Linked DNA regions of Homo sapiens: region 2 is linked to region 1. Evidence: fine-mapped expression QTL. Tissue or cell type: esophagus mucosa. Region 1 holds a variant in brackets; the other region holds the start of a gene. All regions are shown on one strand. Distances are between the middles of the regions.

The links. PIP is the estimated chance that this variant, and not a neighbour inherited with it, causes the effect.
Region 2: SCART1 starts here. The variant in region 1 is fine-mapped to the expression of SCART1 in esophagus mucosa (GTEx, PIP 0.99).

Annotation. Positions count from the first base shown.
Region 1 is chr10:133,561,270-133,569,373 of GRCh38, forward strand. SYCE1 (synaptonemal complex central element protein 1) reads right to left here and starts at 4,314. Exons shown (of 13, transcript NM_001143764.3): 1 at 4,188-4,314. The coding sequence starts at 4,260. It also overlaps the pseudogene SPRNP1. The variant A/G (reference allele first, on the strand shown) is at 3,883.
Region 2 is chr10:133,448,997-133,457,100 of GRCh38, forward strand. It overlaps SCART1 (scavenger receptor family member expressed on T cells 1), which reads left to right and starts at 4,949. Exons shown (of 12, transcript NM_001396050.1): 1 at 4,949-5,068; 2 at 7,241-7,558. The coding sequence starts at 5,002. RefSeq lists an enhancer at 4,674-4,723.

The DNA.
Region 1 (8,104 bases):
CTGAGTAGAGGTGCCCCTGACCTTTGACAAATATCCTATCAGTGCTTGCTAGCAGCTTGAGCTATCTTTATGGTTCAAACTAATATGACAAGTTGCTGAGTTCTGGAAGTCCCCCATCCAGGGAATCCCTCATTTCCCAAAATTCGCTCCAGATCCAAAGTTTATTTTTCTAAACAACTCTACTCTTTTTTTGGAGTTTTTCTTGCTTCCAACAAGGAAGGCAAGTTTTCCTGCTTCCATGAAAGTTCCTTTCTGGAGTTTGAACTCGCTCCCAACAGGGAAGACAAGTTTGAGGGTTTTTTTCCTGCTTCTAAGATGATAGAGAGCAGTCTTCAGCCTAAGACCCATCCCTAGGTAAGTAACTGAATTGGGGTTTGTCTTGGCTAAAGGTAAAATTAACAACCAGCTGGTCTTAATTTTTCCTTATCATTAGAGTGTCCAGTAACCATACAAGTTGTGTGATCATTTGTTTGTTTTGCTTAACTGGTATTTTTTTTTGTTGTTGTTTCTTTCTGTTTTTGTTGTTTTGGTCCTTTTCCTATTGGGTTTGGCCAATTCTGACTTGATCAAATCCAAAGGAAAGTTCCAAATTATGTGGAACAAGGCCTCTGAAGTGGCTAAATTCCCACCAGAAAAGGGGTGGTGGGGGAAGAAAAAACAGCCAGCAAAAGGAAAAAAGGGGGGGAAGATTTTTGATTTTGACTACTTAAGGGGATTTATTTACATAACAAGGCCACCTTTTTGCTAGCCAGGCCAAACTGAAAGAGAAAGGATTGTCACCCCAACTGCAGTTCCATAGCTAAGGTTCTGTCTTCTTTTTTCCATGACAGCCTGGGTTTGGTTCCTAAATCAAGACCTTTCTGGTTTGATACTTGGTACTTCTGAAATAGCAGATATTTGTCCTAGCTGAAATATGTTGATGAGATCTTAAAAATTTTTTAAAAAGAAACTCAAATGGTTAAAAGTCATCTTAATTAAAAGCTAACATCCAATGTGTGTGTGTGTGTGTGTGTGTGTGTGTGTGTGTGTGTGTGTGTGTGTGTGTGTATTTAAAAGGGCTTCATGATTTTTCTTTTTTCTCTCTCCTAGGACCTTGTGTTTTTTGGGCAAAAGTTTTTTTTCTTTTCAGTTGACTGAATGCTATTTTCTTCATATAGTTCTGCTGTCTCTCCTTTCCCTTGAACGCTCTGCTGCATGAGGGACCTAAAATAGTTTATAATAGCCTGAGGTTCCTTAAAGAAAATGGAGAAGGCACCAGACTCCCTTTTGTGGAGAAAATTGTTTTTCCTTGTGTATCCCCAAGAGTGTAAACACACAAGTTCATGTCAGCTCCTAAACTGTTTGCTTTTGTATTGTGTTACCTGATTTTTTTGTTTATTAATTATTGCAACAGAAGCTACTCCTGCATTTTTAAGGAAGAGTATATTTTAGACACTTAGAAATATTTTTTTAATGTTTTTTAAGTACACTGTAAAAGCATCCATGTGGTCGAGCCTCATAATAATTCTCCCTTTTTGCAGACCCAGGATTCAGTGTGGCCTCTTCCCAGAGCTCAGAGATCCAGTTAAAAGATAGGTAGTCACTATCTAAATAAAATTGGTCTCCTGTGATCCAACCACCTCCCACCAGGCCCCAACTCCAACATTGGGGATTACAATTCAACATATTTGGGTGAGGACACAGATCCAAACCATATCACAGGCCAAGGCCAAGGCCGAGGCACGGTTGAGAAGGCTCAGAGGCACCTGACCAAAGTTTGTAACAGTTTTGATTGACAATACCAAATTACCTTACACTGATGTATACAAGATGCCCAGTTTTTCATTTTTACCAATCACCTATGTTTCCAAACGTGTTTATCTTTGTCAACCAGATATGCAAAATTAAGGTGTCTCCTTACAAACTTTCTGATAGTAAATATCAAAAGTTTGGGTGCATCTTATTTTCTAAGACTATGTCCTAAGTAATTCTGGATATGGCTAATGGGCAAGGTGTTCATCACTGTATTGTTTATAATAGTGAAAAACTCGAAGAAGCCTAAATATGCCTTAGGGGATTTGTTAAATAAATTATAGCACATACACAGGATGAAATCATTTACAGCCATTAAAAATCATGCATACATGCATAAGGCCAGGCTCAGTGGTTCACATCCATAATCCCAGCACTTTTGGGAGACTGAGGCAGGAGGACTGCTCAAGCATAGGAGTTCAAGAGCAGCCTGAGCAATGCAGCAAGACCCTCTCTCTACAAATAAAAAATTTAAAAAAATTATCTGGGCATGGTGACATGTACCTGTGATTCCAGCTACTCAAGAGGCTGAGGTGGGAGAATCTCTTGAGGCCAGGAGGTCAAGGCTGCAGTGAGCAGTGATTGTACCACTGCACTCCAGCCTGGGCAACAAAGCACAATCTCGTCTCAAAAAAAAAAAAAAATCAAGCATAAAATTTTGTGAAATGCTTATTTTTGAGTTTATGGAGTCCCCTCATTTTGGTCCCACCTGAAATCTTACACAAATTACTGCTCATAAATTTTTGCATTAAGTTTTAAATTATTCAAGTAATTGGCATGTGTGAAAAAGTATGAAGAAAAAATTGAAACACCAACATTCCCTTTCCCCAGTCATTCCCCTTTCTAGTAATAACTGCAGCCAGTTAGGTGAAGACTAATAGACTTTTTACTAAAATGTATCTAGTGTCACTGACCCTAGATAACATCCCTGCTTCCTTTTTAAAACAGATAGACTAAAACTGGAATCTTGTCCTTTAAATTTCTTCTGTAGCTGGTCACTATAGAATGTTTGTGCCCCCATCCATAGTTCGTATGTTGAAATCCTAACCCCCTAGTGTGACTGCATTAGGAGGTGGGGCCTTTGGGAGGTGATTAGGTCATGAGAGTAGGGCCCTCAGCAATGGGATTAGTGCCCTTATAAGACCAGAGAGGTCTGCAGCAACTTCCCCAACATGAGGACACAATGAGAAGACAGAAGTCTATAGCCAGGAAGCAGGCCCCCACCAGACGCTGAATTGCACCTTGATCTTGAACTTCTAGCCTCGAAAACTGTGAGAAATAAGGCATTTCTGTTGTAGCAGTTTGAACTAAGGCACAAGCGACATTGGTTAAAACTTACCTAAATATACTAGGTTATGTGAGGAACATGGAGCCATGATACTGAAAGGCTAGCACACCGGCGGGCCAGCAGGTGCTTAATGAAAGGGATACGTTTGCGTCTGTCCTGTTTACTTGCTTTGTCCTTCGCTGGGGCTTTCACTGTGCCACATCTCACTGTAGGGATGCTTTCTGTGCTAAGCTTGTTTCAGTATTCAAACCTTCATTTTGTAAGAACATGACAGAGCACCTGCCATGGCATTCACGCAGGTAGGGCTGGAGGCAGCCACCGACGTTTGTTAATTGCAGAGTTTTAACTCAAGGGGGACAGATGATCTCAGGACAGAATGACAAGCTGAGTGACAGCAGGAGGGACGTCACCGTACAATTCTCTCCACTTTTCTGTAAGTTTGAAAATCCTCACAGAACACCCAGAGGCACACAGTGTCCTGAAGTGGAAACGGCCAGGACAGTGTCCTTTCTCTTTGTTGGGCTGCAATTTCTGGACTTCTGTACAACTCTGACCAGCTGCCTGTCCCCTCCCTTCCCAGGGTGAGGTAGGAGCCACTATGGCAGGTCGGGGTCAGGGAGAAACAAACGGGGGATCTGCGTGGAGTCGGCCTCCCCCGGCTCCCCGGGGCGTCGGGATGCTGGGTGGGGGGCCCCACTGTCAAGAACCAGTTTAGTGCGACTGGGAAATCTGGACACTTGCTGGTTCTAGGGAGAGGAAGGTGGAATTAGGAATTCCCTTGGGATTGGGAGCGTCAGGAAAAT[A/G]TCCTTTTTGTTTTAAGAGGTGTGTATGTAAAGTCTGTGGGACAACGGGAAGGGATGTCTTTTGACTAATTACCTAAACCAAAATTGGAGCAACTATGATAACAGTTCAATGCTTTAAGACAAAGTGGGGGGTGTGCGGGCAAGCACTCCCTCATCTTGGCCGAAATTTTTCTGAAGAAACCCGCTAAGTCTCAATCAGCAGCATCAGGACTGACAGGAAGAAGCAGCCGCCACCCGCGCCCCAACCCTGCCCCGCCTCGGCGAGGTCAGACCCTCACGCACAGTTCCCTGCCTCCCACCACTACCTCCGGCCTTCTCAGCCCTGTCCACGGCTCCTGCGGTGGGCTCGGCCTTCGATGTCAGGGACCTCCCCGCCATTTCCTCTCAGCTCGCCAGCGAGGGTGCCTCGGGAGGGAGCCTCCAGTGGTGATTGGAGCAACCGCCGCTGGGGGCAGGACTCCAGGCAGCGCGCCTGCGCAATGCACTCCTGCGCGCGCCTGGAGATGTGAGGTAATTCTCCGGCAGGCCTGCGTGGCACTAGTGCGCATGCGTAAAGGCGCGAGGGCTACAAACGCGGCGGGAAGCCCGCCAGGGCCACGTGCGGCCGTCCAGGCTTGCGATTGGCCCGCTGCCGGGTGCCCCCGCGCATGTGCGCTGGCTTCCGAGGGGACCGGCCCTGGTTCTGGAGGCCCTCCCCACCAACGAGCAGTACGCATGTGTAGCGCCGAAGCTTCCTGTGAAGTGTGCGTGTCTGACGGATGACGACTCCACAAGGCGCTGTGGCCCTGGCAGCCTCATGAGGTTGCGGCTCTGCGGGACCACACCGCCGCGGGAGTGCACGGGCCCCAGCGAGTGAAATCTGCGGCAGCCCCCGCTGGGCCCGCTGTTCCTGCGCGCGCAGAGGAGCGTAGCCTGCCCCTAGGCCGCGTTCCCGTGAGCTCCATGCCCACAGTGGCCGAGGCCGGCCACAAGCCCACGGTCCCTTCTGCACGGTCCCTGCCGCGCTGGGGCCACCGTGGAGGCCCGGAGGGCCCTGGGAGGAGGGAGGAGGAGCAGAGGCTTTCGGGAGAACCCAGCCCTTCACCGGCCAGGGGAGGCCGCGATGCATCGCGACTGGTTGTGAAGAGCCAGGGGAAGAACTTTACCGTGCAGGTGAGTGGGAGACATCAGAACACCTGCCTGTCCTAAATACGAAGCCTCGAATCCTAACCTATAAAAGGTTACCTTAGGGTTTAGGGTTAGGGCTACAGATTAGAGCTAGGGATTAAGGTTAGAGTTGGGGTTGGGGTTAGGGTTTAGGGGTTAGAAGTTAGTTTTGGGGTTAGGAGTGGGGTTAGAATTAGGGTTTGGGGTTAGTGTTAGGGGTAGGGGAAGGATTGGGGTAGGGTTAGGGTTGGGCTAGGGTCGGGGTAGGGGTAGGGTTTTACGGTTAGGGTCAGGGTTTTAGTGTTGGGGTTAGGGTATTGGGGTTAGGGTTTGGGGGCTAGGGGATTAGGGTCAGGGGTGGGGGTTAGGGTTTGGGATTTGGCTAAGGTTTGTAAGGGTTAGGGTTTTAGGGTAGGGGATAGGGGTTAGGGTTACGTGTTGGGGTTGGGATTAGGGTTAGGGGTTACAGTTTAGGGTAAGGGGTTAGAGTTAAGGGTTAGGGTTAGCATTAGGAGTTACAGTTGGGTTAAGGGTTAGGGGTTAGGCTTAGTGTTGTTAGGGTTAGGGTTAGGGTTAGCATTAGGAGTTACAGTTGGGTTAAGGGTTGCAGGTTAGGCTTAGTGTTGTTAGGGTTAGCTTCAGGGTTCGGTGTCAGGGTTTGGGGTGGGGTAGTGGTAGGTTTAGGGGTAGCGTTGTGTGTTAGGATTTGTGGTTACGGTTCGGGCTAGGGTTTTAGGGGTAGGCATAGGTTCGAGTTTGGGTTTGGGTGTTAGGTTTATGGCTAGCATTAGGGTAGGGGTTAGGTGTAGGAGTAGGGGTTGAGGTTATGAGTTGAGGTTAGGGTTAGGGGTCAGGGGTCCGGTCAAGGGTTGGTGTTGGATTTAGGGATTAGGGCTAGAATTAGGGGTTAGGGTTAGGGGTTTGTGTCGGGGTTGGGTTGGAGGCTTGGGTTCAGGGTCAAGTTTAGGGTTGGGGCTAGGGCTTAGGGTTATGGGTTAGTGTTAGCAGTTAGGGTTAAGGTTTAGGCTTAGGGTTTAGTGCTTGAGGTGGGGGTTAGGTGTTAGGGGTTAGGGTTAAGGGTTAGTGTTTTGCGTTAGTGGTTAGGGTTAAGGGTTATGGTTAAGGGTCAGCGTTAGGGTCAGGGGTTAGGGGTAGGGGTTGTGCTTAGTTTTAGGGTTAGGGTTCCTGGACGGATGGTTTTCCTGCTTGGGAATGTTCCTGGGCTGTGAGATCCACTCTTCTGGGCAGGTGGTTAGCACCTAACGTTTTCCCCTTACTTCCCCCCAAATTCTTAAGTCCTTTGGTCCATTTCATTACTTCTTTTGGGGAGGGCCTGATTCCTCAGGGCCTCAGTGGCAGAACCAGCCTGAGGTCACCTCCCTGTCCATGGGTTACCACGGCCCCTGGGCAGGCATGGGGAGCTGGGGTGGCTTGGGTTCCTGGCCTTGGCACCTCCCTTTGGGCGGCTCTGGAGTGTGGCTGGGCTGTTGGTACAGGAGCCACAGGCCACTGCCTTTTTGGCTGAGGGGACCCTAACATCCTGGAGCAGGTGGGGCAGGGCCCATGGTCTCCTCTAGGTGGGAGGTGGGAGGCTGAGGCGGCGTGGGCAGGCAGGTGGATGGCGAGGCAGCATGGGCAGGACGGTGGATGGCGGGTCCACAGGGGCAGCCAGCAGCTCCTGCACCCACTGGGGCTCCAAGACTGTGGGCAAGGGAGGAAGGGGGAGCCCAGGCCGGAGGATCCTGGGGGACGGTGCGGCCCGGGGGCCAGATGTGGTCACCGAGCCCAGCCAGGCCTAGGGCCGCAGCAGCCCCAGGGCACTGAGGGCGCCACCCAGCCCGACACAGAGGCACAGGCCGCCCGTGGGTCCAGCGCCCGAAGTCCACGTACAGTAGCTGTAGATGCCGAGCCGGTCCTGTTGCCTCCGGGAACCCAGTCCTCCTCGTCCTCCAGGCCGCGTTCCCCGGGTCCCGCGGCCCTTCTCCAGCCTGAGCCCGCCGCCCCGGCCGCAGCCACGCGCAGGGAGGAGCCCGGGGCACCATAGCACAGCGCCGGCCTCACACACACCCTCGAGGCCCCTCTCGAGCCCCCGCGGAGCCCTCCGCGGCCGCACGCAGAGGAAGGCTGCCTCCTGTAGCAGAGCCCAGCCATTCGCGGGTGCCCAGTTCATCTTCATGGGGCTAAACCTGCGGGAAGAGAGGGAAAGGGCCCTTAGTTTCCATGGAGATCGGGTGCCCAGAGGCGGAGGGCTCAAGGCTGGAGAGCAGAGGGACCCCCATCTTTTGTGGGATCAGGGTGCCCCCAGCATCTTGGAGGCCCACTGAGGCCTGGGGGGGCGCGGTTTAACCTCTAGCATCAGGGACTTAGGCCTGGGGGAGGCGCTGGGAAGTGGCAGGTGGGGCAGGAGGGGCAGGAGGGTTCTGCACCTGAAGGTTGTGCACCTGGATTGGGGGTGTAGAAGCGGGGCAGGAGCGTTCAGGCCTCTGGGGGCGTCCAGGCCCGGGCGGGGGAGCAAGCCTGGGGGAGGGAGCTCTGCACGCGTTGCTGGGATGTGGGGGGCGGGGGGAGGCGGCATGGGGGGAGGGGCGTTGTGTTTGGAGGACGCGGTAGCCGGGACCAAGAGCTGGCTCAGATCAGGGTCTGGAACGGGGACGGGCCGTGCCTGGGCCTGGTCCCCACCTTTGGGGCCAAAGCCTGGGTGCGGGCCTTGCGGATGCTGCGGAGGACAAGCGGCTGCTGACACCGTGCGGACTCCGCCCCAGCAGACCCGTGCCCCAGGGACAGTCCCTCCCGCGCGCGCCCAGCGCTCAATGCCGTCCCCGGCCGCCTAGTTCAGCAGCTGGCTGGGGGCGGGACGGGGTCGAGTTGCGGGGCCGCGTCCAGACACGGCTGTGCGGGCGACAGCTGCATCCCCTCCCCGCGCCGCCCCTCGCTCCCGGCCCCGTACCCGCCCCAGCCTCCCGGCCTTACCCGCCACGGGCCTCGGTTGGAACCGCGCGCTGGAGTATCCGTCCCTGAGGCCGCGGCCGAGCGGGAAGGAGCGGGCGGGCGGCGGCGCGGACCCTCAGCCGGAGCG
Region 2 (8,104 bases), 110 kb before region 1:
GTTCATGAATTGGAAGAATTAATATTGTCCAAATAACCATATTATCCACACAATCTGTAGATTCAATGCAATTCCTATCAAAATATAAATTACATTCTTCACTGAAATAGAAAAAAGATTCCTAAAATTCCTATGAAACCACAAAGACTCTGAATAGCTAAAGCAATCCTGACCAAAAAGAGCAAAGTTGGAGGAATCACACTACCTGGGTTCAAAACATACTACAAAGCTATAGTAACCAAAACAGCATGGTACTGGTATGAAAACAGACACACAGGGCAGTTGAACAAAATGCAGAACCCATAAACAAATCCACATTAGCCCTAACTGACTTTTGACAAAAGTGCCAAGAACACACTTGGGGAAAGTACACCCTCTTCAATAAATGGTGCTGGGAAAACTGGATATTCATATGCAGAAAATAAAACTAGGCCTCTATCTTTCACCATATAAAAATCAACTCAAAATGGATTAAAGACTTAAATGTAAGATCCAAACTATAATACTACCAGAAGAAAATATAGGGGAAATGAGTCAGGACATTGGTTTGGGCAAAGATTTTATGAACAAAACTTCAGAAGCACTGGTAATGAAAGCAAAAATGGACAAATGGGCATATATCAATCTAAAATTGCTCTGCACAGCACAGGAAACAAATGACAAGGTAACAACCAACAGAATGGGAGAAAATATTCACAAATTATCCATCTGACCAGGAGTGAATAATCAGAATATATAAGGAATTCAAACAATTGAATAGCAAAAAAAAAAAAAAAAAAAAAATTAAGTCGATAAAAAAATGGGTGAAAGTTTCTGAATAGGCATTTATCAATAGAAAACATATAAAGAACCAAAATATATGGAAAAAAGCTCAACATCAGTAATTACCAGAGAAATGCATATTGAAACCACAATAAGATATCATCTCACCCAAGTTTGAAGGGCTTTTATCTAAAAGACAAACAGTAACAAATGCTGGTGAGAATGCAGAGAAATGGTAAAACTTACACACTGTTGGTGGGAATGTAAATTAGTACAGCCATTATGGAAAACAGTATGGGGTTTCCTCAAAAAAAAATAAACATAGAACGACCATATGATCCAGCAATCCCACTACTGGGTATTTATCCAAAGGAAGGGAAATCAGTGAATTGAAGAGATATCTGCACCCCTATGTTCACTGCAGCACTATTCACAATAGACAAGACATGGAATCAACCTAAGTGTTCATGAATAGATAACTATATAAAGGAAATGTAATATATATACACAATGGAATACTATTAAGCCATAAAAAAGAGTGAAATAGGCTGGGCATGGTGACTAACACCTGTAATCCCAGCACTTTGGGAGGCCAAGACTGGTGGATTGCTTGAGTCCTGGAGTTTGAGACCAGCCTGGGCAACATGGTGAAACCCCATCTCTACAAAAAAAAAAAAAAAAAAAAACAAATTATCTGGGTGTGGTGGCATGCACCTGTGGTCCCAGCTACAAGGGAGGCTGAGGTAGGGGGATTACTTGAGTCCAGGAGGCAGAGGTTGCAGTGAGCCAAGATCATGCCACTGCACTCCAACCTGGGCCACAGAATGAGACCCTGGGGGTGTCTCAAGAAAAAAAATAAGTAGATTAAAGAAACCTGTAATCTCAGCACTTTGGGAGGCCAAGGCAGGTGGATCACCTGAGGTCAGGATTTCAAGACCAGCCTGGCCAACATGGCGAAACCCTGTCTCTACTAAAAATACAAAAATTAGCTGGTCGTGGTGCCATGTGCCTGTAATCTCAGCTACTTGGGAGGCTGAGGCAGAAGAATCGCTTGAACCTGGGAGGCGGAAGTTGCAGTGAGCCGAGACTGCACCATTGCACTCCAGCCTGGGCAACACGAGTGAAACTCCATCTCAAAAAAAAAAAAAAAAACTTGCCATTTGTGGCAGTGTGTGCATGTAGGACATTCTATTAAGTGCAATAAATCAGGTACAAAAATATCAATACTGCAATACTGCTAGTTGTCACTCACATGTCGGGACTAAGAAATTGACCTCATATTAGTAGAGTAGAATTAGAGTTACTAGAGACTGGTAAGGGTTAGGGGAGAAGCAGATAGGGAGAGGTTGTTTAATAAATACAAAGTTACAGAGGAATAAGTTCCAGTGTTCTGTAGCTCTGTAGGGTGACTATAATTCAAAATAACTTGTTGTGTATTTTCAAATAGCTAGAAGAGAGGGTTTTGAATGTTCCCAACAGATAAATGATAAATGTTTGATGGGTTTGGTAGTTACCCTGATTCGATCATTATGCATTGCACACATGTATCAAAGTATCACTCTGTATCCCATAAATATGTACAATTCTTACATGTCAATTAAAAATAAGGCACTTCCTGCTTGCTTCCATTTCAGACGAGAAATTAGCTGTAATTCACATTTTACCATTTTTTATAGTCAGTGCAATCCTTTTTGTCTGGCTGTTTTTAGGATTTTTTTTTCCTTTGGTTTCCAAACGTTTAATTATGATGTGTCTTGGTGTGAATGTCTTTGAATTCATCTTATTTTGGATTTCTCAGCTTCTTGAATCTGTAGTTTTGTGCCTTTCACCATATTTGGAGAATATTTAGTAGTTGTTACTTTAAATACATTTTCAGCCCCATACGCTCTCTTATCTTTCCTGAATTTCCCAGATACAAAGATTAAGTCTTGTTATTATTGTCCCACAGATCCCCGAGGCTCTATAAATTTTTCTATTTTCTCTCTGTTGTTTGCACTGTGTAAATTCTATTGAAGTATCATCAGGTTCACTGGTTCCTCTGTCATTTCCATTCTACTAGTCCGTTCATTGAGTTTTTAACATTTCAGTTATTATATTTTCAGTTCTGTAATCATTTATTTTAAAAACAATTTAATTGAGGTTCATGTATCATAAATGCACTCTTTTAAAGTGTGTGGTGCAGAGGATTTTAGTATATTCAGGATTATGCAACCAGCACCACTAATTTCAGAACATTTTCATCACCTGAAAAAGAAATCCTGTAGCTGGCTGTGGTGGCTCACACCTGTAATCTCAGCACTTTGGGAGGCCAAGGTGGGAGGGTCCGATGAGGCCAGGCGTTTGAGACCAGCCTGGGTACATGGCAAGGCTTTCCATCTCTACAAAAAAATTTAAAAAATTAGCCAGACATGGTGGCATGCACCTATAGTCCCAGTTACTCAGGAGGTTAAGGTAGGAAGATCACTTGAGGCCAGGAAGTTGAGGCTGCAGTGAGCTATGATCATGCCACTGCACTCCAGCCTGGATGAGAAAGTGAGACTCTGTCTCCCAATAAATAAATGAATATATAAATACATAAATAAATAAAAATAAAAAAGAAAAACACTATACTATTTTCAGTCATTTTCTCTTTCCTCCTTCTCTAGCCCCTGGAAACCATGAATCTAATTTCCTTGTCTATTGATTTGCCTATTCTGGAAATCTCATATGAATGGAATCGTACCCAGTATGTGGTCTTTTACATCTGGCTTCTCTCACTGAGCATGTTTTCAAGGTTGACGCACATCCAGCCTGTGTGGGTGCCTTGTTCCCTTTCTATGGCTGAGTGACATTCCATAATGTGGACATACCGCATTTTGTTTCTCCATTTATCAGTGGATGCACACGTGAGCTGTTTTCATCTTTATTATGAATAATGCTGCATGGACATTCATGTAGAGATTTTTGTGTGGACATAAGTTTACATTCCTCTTAGATATGTACCCAAGAGTGGAGTTGCCCCTTCTGGGCTCAAGTGGTATCTTCCAGGAGTATCTCTGTTTAACATTTTGACAAACTGCCAAACTTTCTCAAAGCAGTTGCACCATTTTTGAATCTACCAGCAAAATCTGAGAGGTCCCATTTCTCTACATCCTTACCACTGTTTCATTTTGTTTTTAAGACAAAGTCTTGCTCTGTCACCCAGGCTGGAGTGCAGTGGTGCAATCTCAGCTCACTGCAACCTCCGCCTCTTGGGCTCACGCCATTCTCATGCCTCAGCCTCCCGAGTAGCTGGGACTACAGGTGCATGTCACCCTGCCCGGCTAATTTTTGTATTTTTAGTAGAGACAGGGTTTCACCATGTTGGCCAGGGTGGTCTCGAACTCCTGACCTCAGGTATCTGCCCACCTCAGCCTCCCAAAGTGCTAGGATTACAGGCGTGAGCCACTGCGCCTAGCCTGTTCCATTTTTATAACTTCTATTTCTTTGCTGAGATTTCAATTTTTCCACTTATTTCAAGAGCATTTGCAATTTGTTGTGGAAACATTTTTATGATGCCTGTTTTAAAATCCTTGTCAGATAATTCTGACACCTGACTCTTCCTGGTGCCGCCCTTAGTTGGTTGTCTCTTACTGAAATGGTCGTGTCCCTGGGTCTTCATATGATGAGTGATTCTTAACTGTATCTTCTCTCAAGGGTTTTCATTCCAACGACAGTTCAGTTCTCAGAGTTCTTGCAAAGCTCTTCCGTGTCATTCTTCTGGTGCTGCTGGGACTCCCACTCAAACCCTAATCCTACCCCTACCCCTAACTCTGCTAGTGCCATCTGCTGGCACAGAGGACGCCTCCTTGGCTGTCTGGGGCCACTGCCTTCTGTGGTGGTGGCATGGCTGAAGCCGACGGGCCCGGGTGGAGGGCAGAGACGCAGGGCTTCACTGATGCTGTGCTGTGGGCAGGTTGGACCATCTCTGCCTGATGGTTGGGTCTAGTCCCATCAGCAGCTTGATCAGTGTGGGAGGAAACCCACAGCCTGCACCCTCCCCATGTCTGGTGATGCTCAGGCCAGCAAGGCATTGGCTGCTCTGCTCACGGCTGAGAGGCAGAGCTGCTGATTCGCTCTGGAAAGGCTGTGGCTGTCCCCATTGGACCCTGGAGGTCCTTGGCAGCTCCCACTTCTGTATATGTGACTCTGGGCTGTGACCTCTGCCATTGCCCCAGCTAAGCAGCGAGAGCTTGCTGAAGCCCAGAGGGCTGTGGGACCATGAGGGCAGCTCTCTGGACCCTGGGACTCGGGCCCCTTCTTCTGAATCTCTGGGCAGTCCCCATTGGTAAGTTTCTGCTTCCTTCATCCATGGAACTTTCTGGAGGCATCAGCTCTGTTGATGCCCAGGCCCCGGGGCATGAGGGTCCCTGCAGTGACCTGCCGTCTGCCTGGGTCTCACTCAGCCCAGAGTGGGTGGGACATGCTGGGGCAGGAGGGAGGTGACTCCACATGGCTGGATCCCTGTGACCTCAGGGCCCCCAGACCCTAGCCCCACTGCTTGGAACCCAGGGTTCAGGGCTGGGTCAGGCCCTGGACAAAATGAGGGACACGGCCCAGTGTCTGGTCCCAATGACCCTGATCAACAGAGTCCTGAGGGGTCCTGCGGGGGCTGCTCCATCCACGTGCCCTGGAGCAGGGCTGAGGTCCTGGGAAGGAGGTGGGAGGGTTGGCTGCATCTGGCAGTGAGGTTGAGCATGGGGTCCCATGGAGATGCTGCACCCAGGTGGAGACACTGGGGTGTGAAGCCATGTGGAAGGGCTGCTGGGTCAGGGGCAGGGAGGTGTAGAGAGGGGGGTCTAGCTAGAAGGAACAGCAGGAGAGGCTGGAGGTGAGAGGGAGCCCCGGGGACCTGCGTACGTGGGCATGGAGCCATGATGTGAGTGTGGGGCTGGGCGGGAGGCAGGGGAGGGTGCCCTTGAGGCTGAGGAACACTTCACTGTCAAGGCTGGTCCAGGTGCCCAGCAGGGCGGTGACCTGGTGCTGGACGGAGCCACATCCCCAGCGGTGGGGTGGAAGTCTGTGGGCAGCTGCAGAAAGTGCAGAGGAGGTTAGGATTTGAAGGAAAGGCAGCAATGTGGCCACAGATGGATGGAAGCCTGGGGTTGAAGGGATTTGCTTTTGTGTCAACGATCGCATGCACAAGGGCCGGAATTCTCTATTACAACAAGAAATAGCTTTAGAAAATATAAAATGAAAAGCTATTCATAGCGGGCGTGGTGGCTTATGGCTGTAATCCCAGCACTTTGGGAGGCTGAGGCAGGCAGTTTACCTGAGGTCATGAGTTCGAGATCAGCCTGGCCAACATGGTGAAACCCCATCTCTACTAAAAATACAAAAATTAGCCAGTCGTGGTAGTGGGCGCCTATAATTCCCGCTACATGGGAGGCTGAGGCACGAGAATCAGTTCAACCCTGGAGGTGGACATTGCAGTGAGCTGAGATCGTGCCATTGCACTCCAGCCTGAGTGACAGAGCGAGACTTTTGTCTAAAAAAGAAAAAATTGCAGACACCAGCACGCATCCATGTCCTGAGAAGAACCAGGTGGGGAGGGTGATGAGGAGGCTGGGGGGTGTGGAGGGATGGATGAAGACTGAGAGAGAGGAGATTCAAGGCTCCCCAGGAGGTGGGAGGGAAAGGTCTTCATCTTGGACCAGGCAGGGTCCCCCCTCTGCTCCTGACTGCCATCGGGGAGGCTCTTTTCTGGGTGTGGAGAGTCCTCCAGGGGCCCTGGAGGCTGCTCTGGGACCACACAGCACCACCCACATGGACTTCCTCCTACTGGTTGCTTCATTTTCCTCGGGGTGGCTGTGTTGATGTGGGGTTGCAGAGGCCTGGAGAGGGTGGTTAGGGGTGCCTCCGTGGCGGGTGGGAGAGAAGGTGCTGGAGTAGCTGAGATGCTCAGAGACCGGAGGGTGAGATCCTGCCTGGAAGCCGGTATGGGTGGGGTAGTGGGGCTGGGTTTGGCATAGTGGGAGGGCAGGCAGGGGTGGTTTTCCTGGATACTCAGGGTTGCAGAGGACAGGACCGAAGGGTGAGCGGGGCACTCCAAGGGGTGTGGACAGTCACGTGGGTGGGGCAGGTGTGACAGTGGTGGGCTGGAGACCACAGGGCCTCCAGTGGAAGTAGGGGAATGATGCTTGGGAGGCAGAGAGTGGGTGGGAGGACCCACCCAGCTGCAGACCCAGGAGGACAGGGGACTTCCTTGCCTGGGGGATGGGGTCCTCCAGGATGTTGGGGCTCCAGAGGGCCAGGGAGGGGAGTAGCCCCCGGGGAGACACATGGGGTGAGGGTTTCTCTGTGAGCCGCGCCCATCACCTCTCTGGGACTGCTTGGTGGGGTGAGAGGAGCCCGACTCGCTGCTGAGGCCTCACAGGCCGTTCCCTGCTGCCGCGGCTGCCATCTCCTCCTGCGCCTCTGGTTGGTTCTGGCCCCTCTAACTGGACCTGTCTGTCTGTAGGTGGACCAGGTGCTCTGAGGCTGGCGTACAGACACAGCACGTGCGACGGAGTGGTGTTGGTCCGACACCACGGGGCATGGGGATACGTGTGCAACCAGGAGTGGACGCTGGCAGAGGCCTCTGTCGTGTGCAGGCAGCTGGGCTGCGGCCCTGCCGTGGGCGCCCCCAAGTATGTCCCGCTGCCTGGAGAGATGGCCCAGCCCTGGCTTCACAACGTGTCCTGCCGGGGCAACGAGTCCTCCCTCTGGGAGTGCAGCCTTGGCTCATGGTGCCAGAGCCCGTGCCCCCACGCATGGGTGGTGGTCGCGCTGTGCTCCAGTAAGTAGGGAGGAGTGAAGGGGACGGGGCTGAGGAGGAGGAGGAGTGGGAGGACGAGGAGGAGGACTGGGAGGACGCAGAGGAGGACTGGGAGGATGGCGGGTCTCGGAGACGGGCGGGGAGGCTGTGGGTCTGGAGCTCTCTCTGGGAGGGGCTCCTCTCTGGGCACCGGGGCCATCCTGACTGTAAGATTCAGCTGTGGAAAAACCAACGCCAGGGAGAGTCAGAGATTGGAGGAAGGAAGCAGAGTGCGGCCCAGGCGTGGGGGAGGCAGCAGCCGAGCGGGGGCGGGGTCTGTGGACGCCTGAGGCCCACACAGGTAGCTGATGATGGTTTCTTAGACAAATGACAGACAGGTACACGCTTTCCCTTTGAGGTCTGGCTCGAGGGTCCTCAGCTGTCCCTCACATTTTATGTGGCTGTGAGGACCCCCTCATAGCGTCCTGCCTCTGAGGCTGAACCACCTGGCCAGGACCTCCTACCATTTTGGGGCCCAGTGTGAACGGATCCTGCGGGGAACCTTGTTTCAGGAGACCAGCAGCAGAG